Linked DNA regions of Homo sapiens. The protein of the gene in region 1 purifies or fractionates together with the protein of each later gene. This does not show direct contact. Each region holds a gene or a part of one and is shown in the gene's direction. Other genes may lie near its edges. The genes, in order: TLR5, DHRS3, SNX14, MAN1A2 and DHRS7.

The links.
Region 2: the proteins of TLR5 (region 1) and DHRS3 purify together in Homo sapiens (affinity purification with mass spectrometry; 2 studies listed by BioGRID and IntAct, with this or other methods). This does not show direct contact.
Region 3: the proteins of TLR5 (region 1) and SNX14 purify together in Homo sapiens (affinity purification with mass spectrometry; 2 studies listed by BioGRID and IntAct, with this or other methods). This does not show direct contact.
Region 4: the proteins of TLR5 (region 1) and MAN1A2 purify together in Homo sapiens (affinity purification with mass spectrometry; 2 studies listed by BioGRID and IntAct, with this or other methods). This does not show direct contact.
Region 5: the proteins of TLR5 (region 1) and DHRS7 purify together in Homo sapiens (affinity purification with mass spectrometry; 2 studies listed by BioGRID and IntAct, with this or other methods). This does not show direct contact.

Annotation. Positions count from the first base shown.
Region 1 is NC_000001.11:223,133,233-223,136,844, reverse strand, and holds part of TLR5 (toll-like receptor 5 precursor), read left to right. Parts: intron 1-1,980; 5' UTR 1,981-2,163; intron 2,164-2,362; exon of another isoform or gene 2,363-3,612. UniProt on the Homo sapiens protein: Pattern recognition receptor (PRR) located on the cell surface that participates in the activation of innate immunity and inflammatory response.
Region 2 is NC_000001.11:12,615,352-12,619,518, reverse strand, and holds the start of DHRS3 (short-chain dehydrogenase/reductase 3), read left to right. Parts: upstream 1-1,308; 5' UTR 1,309-2,170; coding exon 2,171-2,365; intron 2,366-2,729; exon of another isoform or gene 2,730-4,167. UniProt on the Homo sapiens protein: Catalyzes the reduction of all-trans-retinal to all-trans-retinol in the presence of NADPH.
Region 3 is NC_000006.12:85,541,818-85,545,429, reverse strand, and holds part of SNX14 (sorting nexin-14), read left to right. Parts: intron 1-1,669; coding exon 1,670-1,825; intron 1,826-2,123; coding exon 2,124-2,248; intron 2,249-3,386; coding exon 3,387-3,445; intron 3,446-3,612. UniProt on the Homo sapiens protein: Plays a role in maintaining normal neuronal excitability and synaptic transmission. May be involved in several stages of intracellular trafficking. Required for autophagosome clearance, possibly by mediating the fusion of lysosomes with autophagosomes.
Region 4 is NC_000001.11:117,401,949-117,405,560, forward strand, and holds part of MAN1A2 (mannosyl-oligosaccharide 1,2-alpha-mannosidase IB), read left to right. Parts: intron 1-237; coding exon 238-493; intron 494-3,600; coding exon 3,601-3,612. UniProt on the Homo sapiens protein: Involved in the maturation of Asn-linked oligosaccharides. Progressively trim alpha-1,2-linked mannose residues from Man(9)GlcNAc(2) to produce Man(5)GlcNAc(2).
Region 5 is NC_000014.9:60,158,896-60,162,507, reverse strand, and holds part of DHRS7 (dehydrogenase/reductase SDR family member 7 isoform 1 precursor), read left to right. Parts: intron 1-3,612. UniProt on the Homo sapiens protein: NADPH-dependent oxidoreductase which catalyzes the reduction of a variety of compounds bearing carbonyl groups including steroids, retinoids and xenobiotics.

The DNA of each region.
Region 1 (3,612 bases):
AAAAAAAAAATTTAAAAAACAGTCAATAAATAATTTGATAGTCAACAAGCAATCTGCCACATGCAAAGTATTGCAAGGGACCAAAAAATATAAGCTATATGTCCCATCTCATTTACTCTTCATAACCATCCCATTTTACAGTCAGGGAAACTGTCTGGATTTGAACTCAGAAGACCATGATAAAGGCAAAATCAGAAGTCACTTTTAGTCCTGAGTTTCTGGGGTCTGAGATTCCTCCTCATCTTGGTCAGAGATATAACTGGGTTCAGATAGCTTCAAGACTACCTTTTCTTTTATTTCCCAACCTGTGAACCAAAAGGGTAGTGAGTGTGAATCTCTAGCATGCACAGATGTGCAAGAAATACTGCCTCTCCTCTATTTTCTAGATATTAATATTAGTTTAGAGCCTTCATCTCATCTGGCCAGCAACCATAGAAATCACCCCAGGTTGTGTCACTGTGTCACAATTTCAGATCTCTTATGCATTGCCAAGATCCCAGGGGCTCGGGTGCAGGTATCTCCTGCTCCCCCATCTGGTCCACTCGGGTTACCACTGAAGGCACTCTTGTGCCTGTCTTGCCTAGCAAGTCCTCACTGCTTCCAGACCACATAGCTAACTCACTGGGGTCCTGCCAGAGTCCTGTCTTCCTGGTGCTGACAGACCCCTTTTCCCTTCCTGTCTTCCTGTTTCTAGAAGCATGTCTCTCTGCTTTACCCATCAGCACACCCCACCCCTCTTCCCCCAACTTGGCAAAGACTTTGTGTCCCCAACCTAAGGCCCTGTTTGGAAAATCAAAGCCAGAAGAACTTGCAGGCTATTCCTGGTAGGGTTCTGACATATACCTGCCCTGGACCAATGACTAGGGAGCTGGCTACAGAGGTGGAGGTGAGCCTAGGAAAGCAGAAATACAAGGAGAGGGGGAAAAAAAAGTCAAATCTCAAAATATCTAGCCGCAGACATAAGCTCCTCTGAGGGTAATTTCTTGAGGGGGGAAAAAGTTGCTATTTAAAGCTAGGATATATGTGGTTCCATTTTTTTCATCGGTACATTAATAACATCATTTTCCACTATGTATCTTCAAGATCCGGTGTAACAGCCTTGCAAATTTGCCAGAATGAAGAAGGAATGTTCTGCTTCAGGGAGGATTGGCCCTGGTCTATGATTGCTGTCATGATGATACTCAGCAAGTTTCCTTAGATAACTTCAGAGTTAACAAGGATTTAAAAATGCTTCCATTTCAAACTCACCGTTATACATATGCAGAAACTGAGGACAATGAAAGTTAGAGTTGTCTAGGATACCCAGACTGTGGCTGAAGGAGGACTAGAACCGATATTTATCCTCTCCCAGCCCAGCATTTTTGCCATGGTCTCATGTATCTCGAAAGTAACCACCACTAGCAAGTTGGAGCCAAATCAACTAGCTGACTCCCTGCCCTGACTCAGAATGGAGCATAGCCACCCTGGGCAGCCTGCCCAGGCAGATTCCACATGCAGTAAACCTCCTTCGGGTCCCAGGACACTGGGCACAGGGTGGGGACCTGTGCTTCCAGCAGGGGTGCGCTCCCCAGCCTCACCTGTCCCTGCTTACAGTCCCTCAGGCAACACCAGTGAAATCATCTTCCTCTCAGGGCATCCTCATCCTGGCCTGAGTGCCCCCCACCTTTCCTTCTCAACCTCTTCAGGGCTTACCTTGCATCAGGGGGTGTCTCCAGCAGCTGCAGGGTGCATTGGATTTTATCTGCCTGGGAAGCTTTCTCTTGATTCCTTTGCTAGCCCAGCACAGACTACACATCCCTCTCAGAACAGTTCTCAAGTGTTTGATACTCTCTCTTCACATTCCCATTTCGTATCTAACTGATCAGGTTAATAGGGTTCCTAGTTGCCGGTCACCACCCCCACCCCAGCTGTTTCCAATTTACATCACACTCCAAATGATTTTTGCAGCGCTTAGCAGATTGTCTGTGTCATTACTTTCAGGGATGCTATACTGGACTTCCCTACTCTCATCTGCTCCAGCCCCCTGACCTTATAGTTGCCCAGCTTTCCTGGCAATTGACTTTGCCCATCAATACACAGGATTTAGCATCCAGGGAAGATGTCGGAGCCTCAGATGTTAATTTTCTAATTGAGAATGTTGGCGCTGTCCGAACCTGGAGACAGGTAGGGATGTTCACTTTCTGGGCGAGCCACCTTTTCCCGACGATTTTAAATGTTGTGCTAGTTGTTCGTTTTTAATAATCACTAAAAATTATTTCTTTCAATCAGATGCTTTAAAATTGTGTGCTAAAGAGTTATAATGTGCAAACAACGGGGAAGCCATTCTGTACCTAAACCATGTGTTTTCAACATAACTTTTCAGAGTATCAGCGCCTTTGCTTGCTGCTGTTTTTGCTGTTTTTTGATGCTGGGAACCACCACCTAAAGATAGTAAAGAAAACACAGGAAGCTTTCCGGTAACTCATGCTAAAGAAACACAAAATCACCCCAGTGCCTTGAGAAATTTCCTTTCCCTCTCTAACTTTCCCCTTCAGTGTTCTAAAGGGAAGGCGTTTCTGGTAAGGTGTAGTTGCGTAAATGATGGCTGCCTACTTCAGCAAGCAAGAACTGTTGGAGTATTAAGCATGGGTAACTGGATATTCTGGTTTGGGCACTGGAGGATCCCTGGAAGCCGGAAGCAGGCTGTTGCTGCCGGGGTAGGGGCGGCGGGGGTGGGAGGTAGAAACTTATTGCTGTGATTTTATAGGCAGTAAACTGATGCTTAGAGAGGTTCAGCACTCGCCCAAGCTCACACACCTACTAAACTGTGGAGCTAGGATTTGAATCCAGCTACAAATTTAGTTGTCATTGAAATGTCTAAATGCACTCTACTGCGCAAGCGATAGGAACTTCCCAGCGGAGCTCAGCTCAGGGACGCTTGCAGCTCCCCGCGCCCCGCTCGACTCTCCGGCCGCGGCTCCGCGGGCTCCTCCCCCTCGGTCCCTGCCCCTTTTGCGCCCTCTGCTGGTCTCTAGGGAAAGCGCATCTCCTGAAATCAGAAGTCGCACCCAAGCTGTCCCGTTTCCTTAGCTCCTAGTAAAGCGATATGACCCATCCATCCCCTCCTCCTCAAAGCCTCACATGAATCTTCTTTGAGGTACTCTCTGATGCTTCACTCTTCAGCGCTGAGAAAAATGGGGAGGAAGGGGAAGTGAATGTATTAGTATAGCCCCTTCTCAAAACCAATCGTGCAGCATCTTAGCCATGCCTTATCCTGGAAGAACGAGGCAGCTCACGTGGGCATGGGGGTAATGAGCAGGGAGGCAATTACAGACTCTTAGGTTCTCACCGCTAACAGTGTGGTCAGTGGACCAGCAGCAGCATCACGTGGGAGCCCGTTAGAAATGCAGACTCTCAGGTCCTTCAGCCACAGCCCTGATGAATCAGAATCACCGTTTCAAGGAGGTCTCAGGCGGGCCGTTTCAGGTTCCGAGCTCGCTTTGAGGCTCTGTGGATGTTTTGCAGCATATTCAATTTTGTTTTGTTCAAAGGTCACAGTGACAACTAAGTTTGCAGCGGGATTCAAATCCGAGCTCCACAGTGTAATAAATGTGAGATCTTAGACAAGTGCTT
Region 2 (4,167 bases), about 210 Mb from region 1:
CACCCAGAAGGAAGATCCTCCCCTGCAGAACCTCTCCCCAGAACTAGGTCTTTGCAGGTGACGAGGTAATCCCAGCCTCCCCTCCCCGCAGATCAGCGTTTTTCGAAGTGACTTTCTCACCAGGCGGAGCATTGAAAGTACCGATCCCAGCGCACCCAGCCCTGCTGAATCAGAATCTCTGGGGGTGAGGCCCAGGAATCGCCGTCTGAACAAGTCGCGGGCTGGAAACGGCTGCCCCAGATTACAGGGCAGCTCCCTGCTTCGCTCTCGCTCCTCCGGCCCCGGGAACGTGCAGGGGGGCGGGAGGCAAGTCCCATCAGCACTTTGAACTGGGGCTGCTTTTTAGTGACTCACCTCCCAGACTTCCTGCAACAGACAACTCTAAATAGCTCGGTCCCACCCTCCAGCAGGGGAGACATTCCGGTCGGGAAGGGCAGGAGGTTAGAAGGTGGGTGCCCCGCCAGGGCAGTCCAGGGAGACCCAAGGACAGGAGACGCTGGCTGCACAGCACAGGGGCGCACGAATAGGACGTTTTGTTTACAGGCTTTTGTTATTAAGGAAATTGGTGTCAGTCAAGGTAATTCTAGCTCAGATGAGCAATAAATATGCTCCCAGCTAATCTTGTGGGGATTTTATTGGCACTCGGAGCAGAGGTTCCTTTACCTTGACTACTCCCTCCCCTCAAAGCAAAGTCCTGCTCCCCAGCGGCTTCCCCCTAAGCATCGTGAGGCACTTGGGTCAGGCTTTTAAAAGTCCACTCTACGTGAACACAGAAGAGGTCCGGGCAAAGGTGAGGAGTGGCTTCCTGATCCTACCTGGAGGCCGAGGATGACCAAATGACCTGAAATAAAACCCTGGGTGACCTGGTTGGATCAAGGCATACGCAAGCTCCCCCGGGCCTGCTCCACACTCGGGGTGATCACCTGGCCCGCGGGCGGCCCGGGCAAGGAGGAACGTCTCGAGAAGGCAGCCGGCTCGCCGGAGTCGGTTCCAGCGTGTTCGAGTTACAGCTGCGAGCCCTCAGGGACACCGGCGGCAAGTCCCGGCTTGCAGAGAGGGGAGCCAGTCCCGGGAGAGCGCGAGTCCCGGCGAGCCCGAGTGCGCGCCTTATGCGCGCTCCCCGCGACGGCGCAGGGGGAGGGGAGGCCGCAGCAGCCACTCAGAGGAACGGTAGTGAAGCCTCCCAACAACTTTAACTGTCAATCAGACTTAATGGGGTATTGAAAAAATGGGGGAAAAAGGGGCCGCCCTCTCCGCGACGCGGCTGCCCGGGGAGCGAATGAATAGGGCCGCGCAGACCAAGGCGTCCGATCCACGCGCGCTCCACACCCGGACCCTCTCCAAGTTGGAAAGGACAAAAAGAAGGCAATAAATGCTAAAAAGGGAGAGAAGGGGAGCTGGATCGAGCGGCAACTCCCAGCCTCTGCTGGAACAGAGAGGGAGGGAGGGAGCCGGAGCGAGCGAGCGCGCGCGAGGGCGAGCGCTGCACGTAAAGAAACTGACACCCGGACCCCCCACTTCTCCTGCACGTTGCTGGCAATCAGATCGCGTTTAAGCAATTTCCTGAGCCCAAGAATAGCAATGAGTCGGGAGACTTTCGCGGGCTGAAATTGGGAGCTCCAAGCACTTTTTCCCCCCACTTTTTTTTTTTTTTTTTTTCTGGAGACGGGGTGGGGGTGGGGGCGCTACAATTTGGAATCAGCTTTTTTTTTTTTTTTTTTTTTTTTTTTAATCTTGCACTTTGAAACCGCGGGACCGAGGCAGGGTGCGCGCGTGTGGTTGGTGCCTTTTTTTTTTTTTCTTCCCCTCCCTAAACTCCTCTGTCAGTCTGTAAACATTACCTGAGAATTCCCCAGCCGAAACGGCTGCTGGGGCAAGAAACTTCTTGTTAGAACTTTCCACCTCCGGCTTCCCCCTCCACCTCTTTTACCGTCCCAACCTTAGGAGACGCTTTTTCTCCCCCAGAGGAGAATTTATCTTTTTTTTTTTTTTTTTTTTCTTTTTCTCACCCGGTGCTTTGCATTTGGGAAGAGGTGATTTCAAGAGTGGCCAGGTGGGACGCCTCTCTCCTCCTTATTCGGTTTACTATTTATTGTTCGGGGTGTTTTTTAATTCCTGTATTGCTCGGCCCGGGGAGTTTCGCCCCCTGCCCGGCTCCGCGGCGCGGAGGATGGTGTGGAAACGGCTGGGCGCGCTGGTGATGTTCCCTCTACAGATGATCTATCTGGTGGTGAAAGCAGCCGTCGGACTGGTGCTGCCCGCCAAGCTGCGGGACCTGTCGCGGGAGAACGTCCTCATCACCGGCGGCGGGAGAGGCATCGGGCGTCAGCTCGCCCGCGAGTTCGCGGAGCGCGGCGCCAGAAAGGTACCAGGCACTGCGACTCCAGGGAGTGGGGGGCCGCAGGGGCGGGGGTAAGCCCACCTGCTGCCGCTGCGGGATCCCGCGCCCGGGAGCTGAGAGTCGCCGGCCACCCCACTTCTCCGCGCCACCCACGAGTGCTGAGCTAGTCGGTTTCACCTTGTAAATTTCCCGGGCACCGGACTGTCTTTTTTGGCAGGTTCAGAGTTGATCCGCTCCTTTGGGATCGGTGGCTGGCTGACTGGCTATTCACCCCCACCCTGAAACCTAAGAGACCCACCATTTCCCACATTCCTGCCTCCCAAAGGAAGGTGTTGTGCCCCCCTCCCCCGCCTTCCCCCCTTTTTCTTGCCGCCACCCTGGTGAGTGCAGGGTGTGCGCACTCCTGGGTAGAGCTGGGAGCCGCCTGCTAGCTGGCGCCTCGTATTTTCCTTGGCAACCCGCTACCCAGCCCCAACCTGGGCGGCTGCAGCTCTGAAGACACGAGAGAGGGTACTTGGTTTGGGTTTGAAAAGGGAAGAGCGGTCTTGTATGCAGTAGTCTGGCCGGACCGACACTGAGAGGCCCAGGTGTTTGGAAAGCAGGAAAGAGGAGGCCAGGGTAAGCAGCTACTGATAAAGAGCCCTTGTTCTCACCTTCAACCCTGTCCCCTCCCCCCCAGTACACCCCCCAGGGATCCCTCCCCATTTAGCTGGAAGGTGGTGCTGCAAGGAGGGTCCTGCCCACCAAACACGGCCTTTAACTTTTTGGTGGTCCTGGCACCCCTTGCTCCAGGTTTTGGAGACCTGGTGCCAGAGTGGGGAGAGTGGGCAGGCTGTCACCCAACTCCCAGCCCAGGCCAGGCTGACTCACGCGGTGACCAGAGCCATCAGGAGAGGGAGGCAGGCCAGGCTGTCTCCAGCCAGCCCTGTGAAGAGGAAGAGCGAAAACAGGGAATTAGTTTGAAACTTAAACTGTTGTGAACTAGGGGGGTGAAAGGGCCGCAAAGCCAGCTGATCTGACATGGAGCCGCATACCTTGGGGATTAAGTAAATATGTACTGTAGAAAACCAAACCTGCATGTAATTCCAGGTTGCTTTTGTTTTGTTAAATACTGCCCTGAGATTTACAATTCCTCCGGGGTGGCTCTGACTGGGACTGAACTTTGGAGCCTGAACTATCAGCCAAAGCCGATCCGATTAACTCTTCCCTAGCCGGGCTGGCCGGAGCCTGTGGTGGCCAAGCTAGCAGGGGTCTGGCTGTCCAGGACTCCCTCTTCTCCTTGGGTGGTTTGGACAGCCGCTTGACCTTGCATTTGGAGGGGGAGTTGGGAAGCGTTTTTAACCCTTGGACACAACGAATAAGGGGAAGTCAGAGTTGTTCTCAGCAGTTTCATTTCCTTGAGGCGATGCCCCATAAAAGGGCTCCTGAAGCTCTTTGTGAAGGGGACTGAAAAGGGCAGATGAGGGTGTCCTTTGGGGCGGACGTGGGGTTTGGGACAATTGCATGTGATTGTCATTCTTTAGCTGTCTGCATCCCACAGAAACTTTTTTCTGAGTCTTCCAGCTGGCCCAAGTCCTGGGTCTCTTTTACTGTTCTTGTAGCTGACTACAGTAGGCAGATGAGGAACTCTTAGTCAATCTGGAAAAACTCGACTGACTATAAACAATCCTAAATTGAAAGAAGTGTATGGCATTGGGGGGTGGGTGTGATAGTACAGAGTGGAGCCTGCAAGTTCACGCACCGGGAACCAAACCCCACCTAACTTGGACTGGACGTCCTCTTCCAGGGAATCCAGCCAGGGCCAATTAGAAATGTGTCTTAAATTG
Region 3 (3,612 bases), on another chromosome or scaffold:
AATGTTTAATGTATTTCTAGTAAGCAGCACATAGTTTCTCTCACTTTAAAAAAACCTAATTTAGTAATCTTTGCTTTTTAATTGGTATCTGTAGTACATTTACACGTGATATATTTATTATGTGTTTATTGTTAGGCCTTACATCTTGGTGTTTGTTTTATATTTGTCCTGTATATTCTTTGCCTTTCTTTTTCTCCTTTGCTGCCTTTCTTGAGGTTATTTTTTAGTATTTTATCTTTCCTATTTTTTTGAGTGTGTTCTGTTACTTTTTTGATTGATCAGAGATTTTCTTTTTCATTTATCATAGTCCTAATTTAAAAACATTTTACTGCTTCAGGAGCAGTGTAAGAACCTCAGTGTACCTCAGAGCATCCTCTCCTGCCTATTGTGCTCCTGTTGTCATGTATTTTAATTCTGCATAGGCTATAAAACCACAGTACATTATTTCTTCACTAGTCATCAGGCTTCTACACATGTGTGGAATGCACACACACATTCATTTTTAAAGGTTCTTACAATTATTGGCATATTTACTGTCCCGGTGCTCTTCATTTCTTTCTGCAGAACCAGGTTTCTAATATTGTTTCTTTCTGCTGAAAGAAATCATTTTCACAGTTCTTAAAATACAAATATGCTGGAGATAAATTTTCTTAGCTTTTGTGTGTCTGAAAAGATGGCATGATCATGGCTCACGAAATACAGCCTCAACTTCCTGAGCTCATTCATCCTCTTGCCTCAGCCTCCGAAGTAGCTGGGACTACAGGTGAACACCACCATGCCTGGCTAATTTCTTTGTAGAGACTGAGTCTCACTATGTTCCCTAGGCTGGTCTTGAACTCCTGGGCTCAAGCGATCCTCCTGCCTCAGCCTCCCAAAGTGCTGGGATTACAGGCATGAGCCACCACACCTGACCTTTAATCAATTTTGAAAATTCCTGGCTGTCTTTTCAAATATCCTGCCCCATTTTCTCTTCTTTAACAACTCCAGTTATATGCATGTTAACTCATACAGGAATGGCAATTATATTCTGTTGCCTCACAAATCTTATATCCTGTATTCCAGCTTTTTTTTTTTAACTCCCTTTTTTCCCCTTTATGTTTCAGTTTGAATGATTAAGAAGTAAAAGGTAAACTCCTTATTAACACATCCTGAAATAAAAAGAAAAAGCAATTGGTATTTTGGCTATCATAATACTACCATCTTTTATTTTGGAATAAACATTCATTTGTTCAAACTCAGTTCTGCCACTAGTTTGCAGCGTTCATGATAGAAATATTGTTTAAAAACATTGATTGGGACTAAAAAAAGTCTTCATTTTTATTTTTATTTAGTAAATCAGATCTCAAAATAATAAAAGACTTTTGGTATAATAAATTCAATATTCTTTAAGGAAACTATTAGAAGTGTGTTTAGTGTTTTGAATTTTAGCAAAATTTGTATTGGTATTTATGTATTTACATATTTTCTATTAATGTATAAAAACTGGTTGATTGCATTTCTCTTTTATTGAGTAGTTATTTTATTCTCAAATATTTTTTAAAAACTTAGATGAATTAGATTGCTTCTAATTGCTGCTGTTAGTATTGGCTACAATTAGAATGGGACTGAAGCTTTTATGAATAATTATATATTAAAATTATTTTTTCTTATTCATTCCCTCATTTGTTAGAGGAATTTAATGATAGAATTTTACGACCAGAATTATCAAATGATGAAATGCTGTCTCTTCATGAAGAATTGCAGAAGATTTATAAAACATACTGTTTGGATGAAAGTATTGACAAAATTAGATTTGATCCCTTCATTGTAGAAGAGATTCAAAGAAGTAAGTCAAAGACGATAAGAATGACTTATTTAGCACTCTTACAGTTTTTCCATTTATTTTCTGTTTATTATTGCAGTGGCTAGCTGCAGTACATGGGCAGCTATTATTCTATTTTACTAATGAGATGAAAGCTTTAAAGAAAAAACTTATTTATACTTTATGTATTTGTCAGAACTAGAGCTTGGTTGGTCTAATTTCTCAATCTAGTGTGTTTCAGTGGAGTTTCAGTAAAACGTTTTAGAACTGTATATATTTATGCTATTTATAAATAATTTCTACAGTAGAATTTTTTTAATAGTTGCTGAAGGCCCATACATAGATGTTGTGAAACTTCAAACTATGAGATGTCTTTTTGAAGCATATGAACATGTTCTTTCCCTTTTGGAGAATGTATTTACTCCTATGTTCTGCCATAGTGATGAGGTAAGTCAAAATATTAACCTTGTTTGAGGATTTTTATACATAATTTAATAGTAGCTTTGATATCATTAGATGAGTGATTCAAATAACAAAATAAATAGAAAAATAAGACAAGATTACTGGGCACAGTTGCTCACGCCTATAATCCCAGCACTTTGGAAGGCTGAGATGGCTGAATCAATTGAGTTCAGGCATTCAAGACCAACCTGGCCAACATGGTGAAACTCCATCTCTACTAAAAATAGAAAAAATTAGCTGGGTGTGGTGGCACATGCCTGTAATCTCAGTTACTCAGGAGGCTGAGGCAGGAGAATAGCTTGAACCCAGAAGGCCAAGGTTGCAGTAAGCTGAGATCACACCACTACAACTCAAGCCTGGGCCATAGAGCAAGACTCCGTCTCAGTAGAAAACAGAACAAAAAAACCAAGATTAAGAAAGTAAATATTCTTTTTCGCTATGTAATTAAGTGAAGATTAAAAAATAATTGCAAAGGCCGGGTGTGGTGGCTCAGGCCTATAATCCCAGCACTTTGGGAGGCCGAGGCGGGCGGATCACAAGGTCAGGAGATCAAGACTGTCCCGGCTAACACATTGAAACCCCTTCTCTACTAAAAATACAAAAAACTAGCTGGGCGTGGTGGCGGGCACCTGTAGTCCCAGCTACTTGGGAGGCTGAGGCAGGAGAATGGCATCAACCCGGGAGGCGGAGCTTGCAGTGAGCCGAGATCGCACCACTGCACTCCAGCCTGGGCAACAAAGCGAGACTCTGTCTCAAAATAAATAAATAAATGAATAAATAAAATAATAATTGCAAAAACAATTATCAATACCAAAACCTGTTTATATTTGTGTAAGTAGATAGATTGGGACCAAATAGGTCTGCCTGGTTTGCCATATGCCTGAGTGGCTTTGTAGTACTGCAGTGACGCAGAAATCTCATTGTATACACGTTATTTACAAACCTGTGGAAATCATCTGCATTTGCAATATTTTCATCCTTACCCTAGTTGACCATGTCTGTATTCACTTGATTGAGATAGCTTTTTTTTTTTCCCAAAACTGGAAAGTAGTAAACTAAGGTAACATGTTTTAATGTTAATTGTAAGTGTAATAAATGATAATTATTATTTGTTATTTTAAAGTATTTCAGACAACTTTTAAGAGGTGCAGAATCACCAACACGCAATTCAAAATTGAACAGGTAGGTTGTATGTTTTGTTTTTGAACTTGCTGATGCCAGTCATTCTATGATAGCATCATTGTCTTTATTAGCTATTTTTCTGAATGAATATGTGGTTCCATTGTTATATGAGTTCACAAGGCATTTTACTAGTGAATTGTAGAACTGTATTCTATATGGTGATCTGA
Region 4 (3,612 bases), about 110 Mb from region 1:
TCTTAGTCTGGAAATTGTATAAAGAGATTATAAACAGAGTTTGATCTTAGGCATCCAGGGTTCCTTTTCTTTCTCATTCCAGATCTGAATGTGTCTCACTGATAATTCTTTCCTTTTAATGGCAAAAGTAGAAAACAAGTTCCTGGGTTTAATGGAGAAACCTTTATGTTTTATATTTAAAGGTTGACATTCTTAAGTAGGCTCACTGTTACGTTTTATTTCCTTCTTTTCTCACAGGGAAGAGGAAGAACGTCTGAGAAATAAAATTCGAGCTGATCATGAGAAGGCCTTGGAAGAAGCAAAAGAAAAATTAAGAAAGTCAAGAGAGGAAATTCGAGCAGAAATTCAGACAGAGAAAAATAAGGTAGTCCAAGAAATGAAGATAAAAGAGAACAAGCCACTGCCACCAGTCCCTATTCCCAACCTTGTAGGAATACGTGGTGGAGACCCAGAAGATAATGACATAAGAGAGAAAAGGGAAAAAATTAAAGAGGTAATAAGCTGAGTTTTGTGATATGGAGTGTTTATGGATTTGTATTTGGATACAAACAAATATATATAATCTATGGTATCCTGTTTTGATCTGTTTATTCTTGGGTCATAGTTGTAGTATAGTTTCCAGGTTGGTAATAAGGACTAGAACTCTTTCTTGTTTTTTTTTTTAATGTTAATTATAATGTAATTATTGGACACTTAAAATATTTTTGATACAACTTTTGGATGGTTAGTGCCACTCATTCTTTGTTCAGAGATCTTTTGAAATTCAGCGTTTTATTAATAATATATCTGTATATAACTTATTGTCTAAGCAGTTTCTTAAATGTTCAGTTACAAAGGGACTCTGCTAGATACTATGCAGATCACCTCATAAACATGCTTCTAAAGAGCTAGCATTATATCTCCAATTTTTTAAGGAACATGTCATGGTATCCCTCAACTATACTGTAGATTAAGAACACATTCCTTCCAAAAAGTCTCCATGGATTGAAAAATGGGAAAGAATTGATTTCAAAATTCTTTAAATTTATTTAGCCTCAGAAGTCTTTCAATTTGTTATTCTGTAGTTACTTAAAAGTAAAGAGAATACCAGATGGGAAAAATCTAGTGAATATTTGGGTTAAACTTTGTTAATTAGAACTCCTAAAAATTCTGGGTGGAGTTTGTGATTATACTGCCTGTGAAGAAAAATATTTTATCAGAGTGTAATTGTACCAACAATATTTCAGAAGGTTTAATTATTATAAAGTAAGATAAATTTAGTTCAAGTAATCAAATATCTATTTGGATATATTCTAGTAATGGATATGGAAGGTATAGCAGATACTTTAAGCTTAGCCTTATGAATTATTATAAAACCTTGACCTTGATGGAGTAGAAATAGAGCTGTGCTCTGATTTTACCTCACCTCTAGAGTCTGTTTTATATGTAGACTACTTAAGGCACTTCCTTCGGACAGTGTTGGGAGAGACAGTGATAGATTTTTTTTCAGATGCCTGACTTGCTTTTTTTCAGATGTCATTACAATGTACTGAAATACTTTTTTCAAATACGTAATAATTCAGATAGATAACCATGTGTGTTCAGGGGACCCCCAGATGATCCTCAGGTTCAGTGACTCACCAGAAGTACCCACGGAACTCAGCATATAGAAACATGTTTTAGTTTGCTGAACTTTTATCCTGTTATTTTACTGAAGTTATTTATTCTTATAGCTTTTTTGTAGATTGCTTGTGATTTTTCTTATACGTAGTCATGTCTTCTGTGAAGAGATACTTTTACTTTTTCCTTCTTGATTTTTATACCTTTTATATTTTTTTTCTTGTCGTACTGCAGTGGCTAGGAGTTCTAATACATTGTTCAAAGTAAGTGGCGAGAATGGACATACTAGGTTTGTTCCCAACTTTAGGGGTTAAGCATCCAGTCTTTTGCCATTAACTATGTTGTGTCAACTGTAGGTTTTTTAAAGATGCTGTTTATTAGGTTGAGGATGTCTCCTTGTAATTGTAGTTTACTGAGAGTTTTATCATGAATGAGTGTTGAATTTTGTCAGATGCATTGTCTTCATTTTTCTCTAGATGACTGTATGATTTTTTTTCCTTTATTCTGTTAACATGGTAAATTACATTGTTTTTTGGATGTTAAATTAGTCTTATATTCCTGGGTTAAACTCCACTTTGTCGTGGTATGGTATCTGTCTTAGATGTTGCTAATTTTTCTTAAGGAATTTTGCATCTGTGTTCTTGAGATACATTGGTCTTGAGTTTTCTTGTAATATCTTTGCTTGATTTTGGTGTCTGATTAATGCTGGCTGCATAAAGCAAGTTGGGAAATGTTTAATGAATAGTATGCTGTTAAATGAATAGATTTTTGGTCTACTATTATATAATTCGTCTGATATATAATTAAATACTCTGCTATTGTATAACTCAGAACTCCTTGGGTTGTAAGACACTCAGCTCAAACTAAGTGATACAAATAGTATTTATTGGTTTAATGGCTCTAAACAAGGGCTTCAAGTTTGGCTGAATCCAAGCCTGTAGATATTATTGTGAGTGTTAAGCATCTGTCTCTCTTTCCTTTTGCTAGTTTCTCCATGCTGGCAGAGAGCCATTATCAGCTCCAGGATTATATATTACATAGACCATCAGATTGCAGAATAAAAAAGCCCTCTATCTCATGGTGTCAATAACAATATGTGTAAAAAGAACTTGATTGTTCCTACCTGAATCACATGTATCCACTCACTTTGTTTAGGGCAGGGGTTGACAGCTGCAACCTGTGGGCCAAATTCTGCTTGCTGTCTGTTTTTTAAAAATAAATTTTAGGCTGGGCATGGTGGCTCACACCTGTAATCCCAGCACTTTGGGAGGCCAAAGTGGGCGGATCATGAGGTCAGGAGATCAAGACCATTCTGGCTGACACGGTGAAACCCTGTCTCTACTAAAAATAACAAAAAATTAGCCAGGTGTGGTGGTGGGCACCTCTAGTCCCAGGAGGCTGAGGCAGGAGAATGGTGTGAACCCGGGAGGTGGAGCTTGCAGTGAGCTGAGCTGGTGTCACTGCATTCCAGCCTGGGTGACAGAGCGAGACTCCATCTCAAACAAAAAAAATAAATAAAATAAATTTTAATTTGAACACAACCATGTCCATTTACTTAGATATTATCTGGGACTGCTTTTATGCTGTAACAGCAGAGTTAGTTTGTTGATCTCTGGTCTAAGGATAGGGGATTTTCTAGCTAGGGTGAGTTAATTGGTGGTAGAAGCAGAGCCTCTTGATTGACAGCTCTGTTATATGTGAGGAAAGGAGAGCTGTCCCCAAAAAGACTTAACATTTCTCAAAAGGAAAGAATGCCAAACAAATATGTACCTCCTGAAGAAAGAAGACTTTTCTATTATGCCCATTTTTTTCCTGTCATATAGATGAGATTAAACATAGTTATGTATGTTTTCATACTGATACAAATGCTAATTGAATAATGTACTAATATAGATCTGGAAGAATGGGCAAGGATATAGTAATAGAACCCAAAATTGTATGAAATAAAAAAACAGTTTGTGAAAAATTTAAATTGATGGATTATAATTTTTCTCTTTTCAGATGATGAAACAT
Region 5 (3,612 bases), on another chromosome or scaffold:
CCTTGTGCCCTAGCTACCTAGTGTGCTTCTCTCGAGGCAGCCACCATTTCCTGCCTCCTCTGTATCCGTCTAGAGAAATTCTGTGCATTTCCAAGCATATATCTCACATGGTGATTTTTTTTTTTTTTTAATAGAGAGACAAGGTCTTGCTTTGTCACCCAGCCTGGAGTGCAGTGGCATGATCATAGCTCACTGCAGCCTCGAACTCCTGGGCTCAGGCAATCCTCCCACCTCAGCCTCCCCAGTAGCTAGGACTACAGGTGCAAACCACCACACCTGGATATTTTTAAACTTTTTGTAGAAACAGGCTCTCACTATGTTCCAGGCTGGTCTTGAACTCCTGGCCTCAAGTGATCCTTCCACCTTGGCCTCTCAAAGTGCTAGGATAACAGATGTGAACTGCCAAGCCCAGCCACATATGGTGAAATTTAAGGGTGACTAATTTTAGACATTAAAATGGTCCAGAAAAATCCATGGCACAAGTCTAGAGGAGGAAAAATTTCAACAGCAGCACATGTGAGCAAAACTCAGGTTTTTGTTAACAGTAACCTCAATAGGAGTCAACTGTGAAGTGGCTGCCAGAAAAGATCAGGCAACCTTGGGTTGCATTTGTAGACCTCAGTGTCTGAAGCAACAACTGCAAACAACAGATGTCTCCTGACTAGCTGCTTGTATGTGCCGGCCTCTGTGCTGGGGCACTGGGGACACTGCAGTGACTGAATCAGCCACAGTCCAGGCCCTCATAGACCCTACCTTCTGGGGGACAAGGGAAGTGATTTTTGACATCTCATCCTGCTCTGCACTGTCCAGACCCTACCGAATCCTGTGTCCTGCCCTAGCCAGCTCCCTTTAATAAAGAGGAACATTAACCAACTAGAATTGGTGCAGGTGGGTGTGAGCAGAAGAGTGAGGAAACCTGATACCATGTCATGTGAGGGAAGGTGGCAGAAATTGGATAGGTTTATTTAGCCTTAGAGAAGGTAAGAGATGAAAGGACTTAGGGAAGACATAATGGCTGTCTTCCCTAACAGCTGTGAGGGATTGTCATTTAGAAGACAGGTTTCATTTCTTTTCTTTTCTTCCTGAAACAGCTTTTTGTAAAACAAGAAAGCAGAATTGCAACACAATTTAAATGTCTGTCTAGGTCACAAAAGGGATGCAAAATGTTTGTAATATGATTAGTATGTATTCATATAGTGAGTCATTCTTACACCTATACATAAGATTATTCCATGATTAAAGGTAGCCCAGCTCTAATAACCATAAGCTATATTAGTGGATCCCTTTTCCTATTATAACATTTTAGTATTACTTCTGATATTGATTCCCTTAACAAATGGAGTCTACAAACTGAATTTTAAAAAATTGTTAAAAGTGACTAAAACTCTGTAAACAGAGGAGTTGAGTTTACAAAAAATTCTGGGAGAACAAGCAGGATAAAACTGAGCAAGATTATCAATAAGTGTACATCTGAAACTCCCATTTTTCACAGTTCTGATACTAATACATTCTTAAGGAATTTTGCAAAAGTTAATCTGCTGAGTAGAAATATACCTTGAGACCAAACTCTTTGTAACTGTTCTCTTCCAGATGTGGTACATAAGATTAGTCAAAGTTGGCCAGATGCGGTAGCTCACGCCTGTAATCCCAGCACTTTGGGAGGCTGAGGTGGGCAAATCGCTAGAGCTCACAAGTTCGAGACCAGCCTAGGCAACATGGCAAAACCTCATATCTACAAAAAAATACACACAAAAAAATTAGCCGGGCATGATGGTACACGCCTGTAGTCCCAGCTACTTGGGAGGCTGAGGTGGGAGGTTGGCTTGAGCCTGAGCCGTGGAGGTTGCAGGGAGCCAAGATCATGCCACTGCACTCCAGCTTGGGTGACAGAGCCAGGCCTTGTCCCCTCCCCCCGTCCCCCCGCCAAAAAACAGGTTAGTCGAGCTTAATCTACTCTCATATATTTCCCAAAAGATCTACTCTGTGCCAGAGATAACAAAAATCTGGAGTGAAAATATTTGGAGTTGGTTACTAGTATTTTCCCAAGTACTTTTCCATCCTATTTCTATTTTCCCTTAAGCTTTTCTATTTTAAACACACACGACCATAATTTATATCTTTTCAGATACAAAGTAGGTAATTTTGTAAAAAAAAAAAAAAAAAAGAAGTTTTTTTTTTGTTTTTTGTTTTTTGAGATAGAGTCTCACTTTGTTGCCCAGGCTGGAGTGCAGGCTCACTGCAAACCCCACCTCCTAGAGGTTCAAGCAATTCTCCCTGCCTCAGCCTCCCAAGTAGCTGGGATTACAGGCACCCACCACCACGCCCAGCTAATTTTTGTATTTTTAGTAGAGATGGGGTTTCGCCATGTTGGCCAGGCTGGGCTTGAACTCCTGATCTCAGGTGATCCTCCTGCCTCGGCCTCCCAAAGTGCTGGGATTACAGGCGTGAGCCACTGTACCTGGCCAAAAAGAAGTTTTTGACAACAAAAAATTATCTTCCCAGATTGACAATTCAGTTTCAATGAAAAATCTTCATTTTTATAGTCTCTTTTTGTTTTCAATTGATTAAAGAGAAACCAGCAATTCTATCTTAGTATTAAATATCACAAATGAGAAGCTCTAGCTGAGAAAATGTCTTCATTTGGTTAAGTTTTGACAATTAAAGTTCAGGTTACTCTCAGAGATGATTAAGTATTAAAATTGCTTTTACAAATATGAAACCAGTTTTTCCCTGGGGGAGGGGAGATAGGAAGGAAGAAGCCAGTGGAGAAGGGGCCCAAGAAGATGGATAGGGTACATGAATCTGTGCAGTCAGTACCTGATTGGGGTCACTTTTTCACAGCATGATGGTTATTTTCTTGTATATCTTACTAAGCCTATAATAAAAGACAGGGCTAAACCCACAAATCAGAGCAAATTTGATAAAACATTCATCTTAAGTTTCATAAATATGTGCTATTCTAAATTAAGTTTCCAATACATTTGCACATTCTCATAGACTAACATAATACACAAACTTATGGAAGTTTCCTGTTATGCTATGAATGTTGCCTACATCTGACATTAGCTTCATAAATATTCAATGAAACCACAAACAAAGGTACTATCACTTTTGAAATCTGTCCAACATATAAAGAAAGGTCAGCAGCAATTCCATAAAACAGAAGGGCTTCAATTCTGTATTTTCTTTTGCTTTTTGTGTCAGTTGTTTGAAAAACACTAGAAGCTGACATGAAATTTTCTGTGTATTGTCTAAGAAACTTGGTTTTCTGATTTTAGCTTGAGATTTTCTTCCGTAACCGCATCTCCTCTGACAGGGAGATCTTGAAGTGTATGTTGGGGTTCCAACACTTGATTAATAAGCTGTGTTTTTCCCTCCAATTCCAAATGATTTTCAGCATCAACTGCATCCATGTCAATATTTGTCGTCTTGGGTAACAAACTTTTGGGCCTTGGATACAAAATCCTTGATGAATGTTTGAGGTGCTGGGAGAGGAAGGGATGGGGAGGATGCCTCAGGCTGGACACTTGGACCCACCGACACCAGAAGTTTGATTTCTTCTTTGTCAAACCACAAGGCAGGATTACTGCCCACTGCTACTGGTTGATAGCA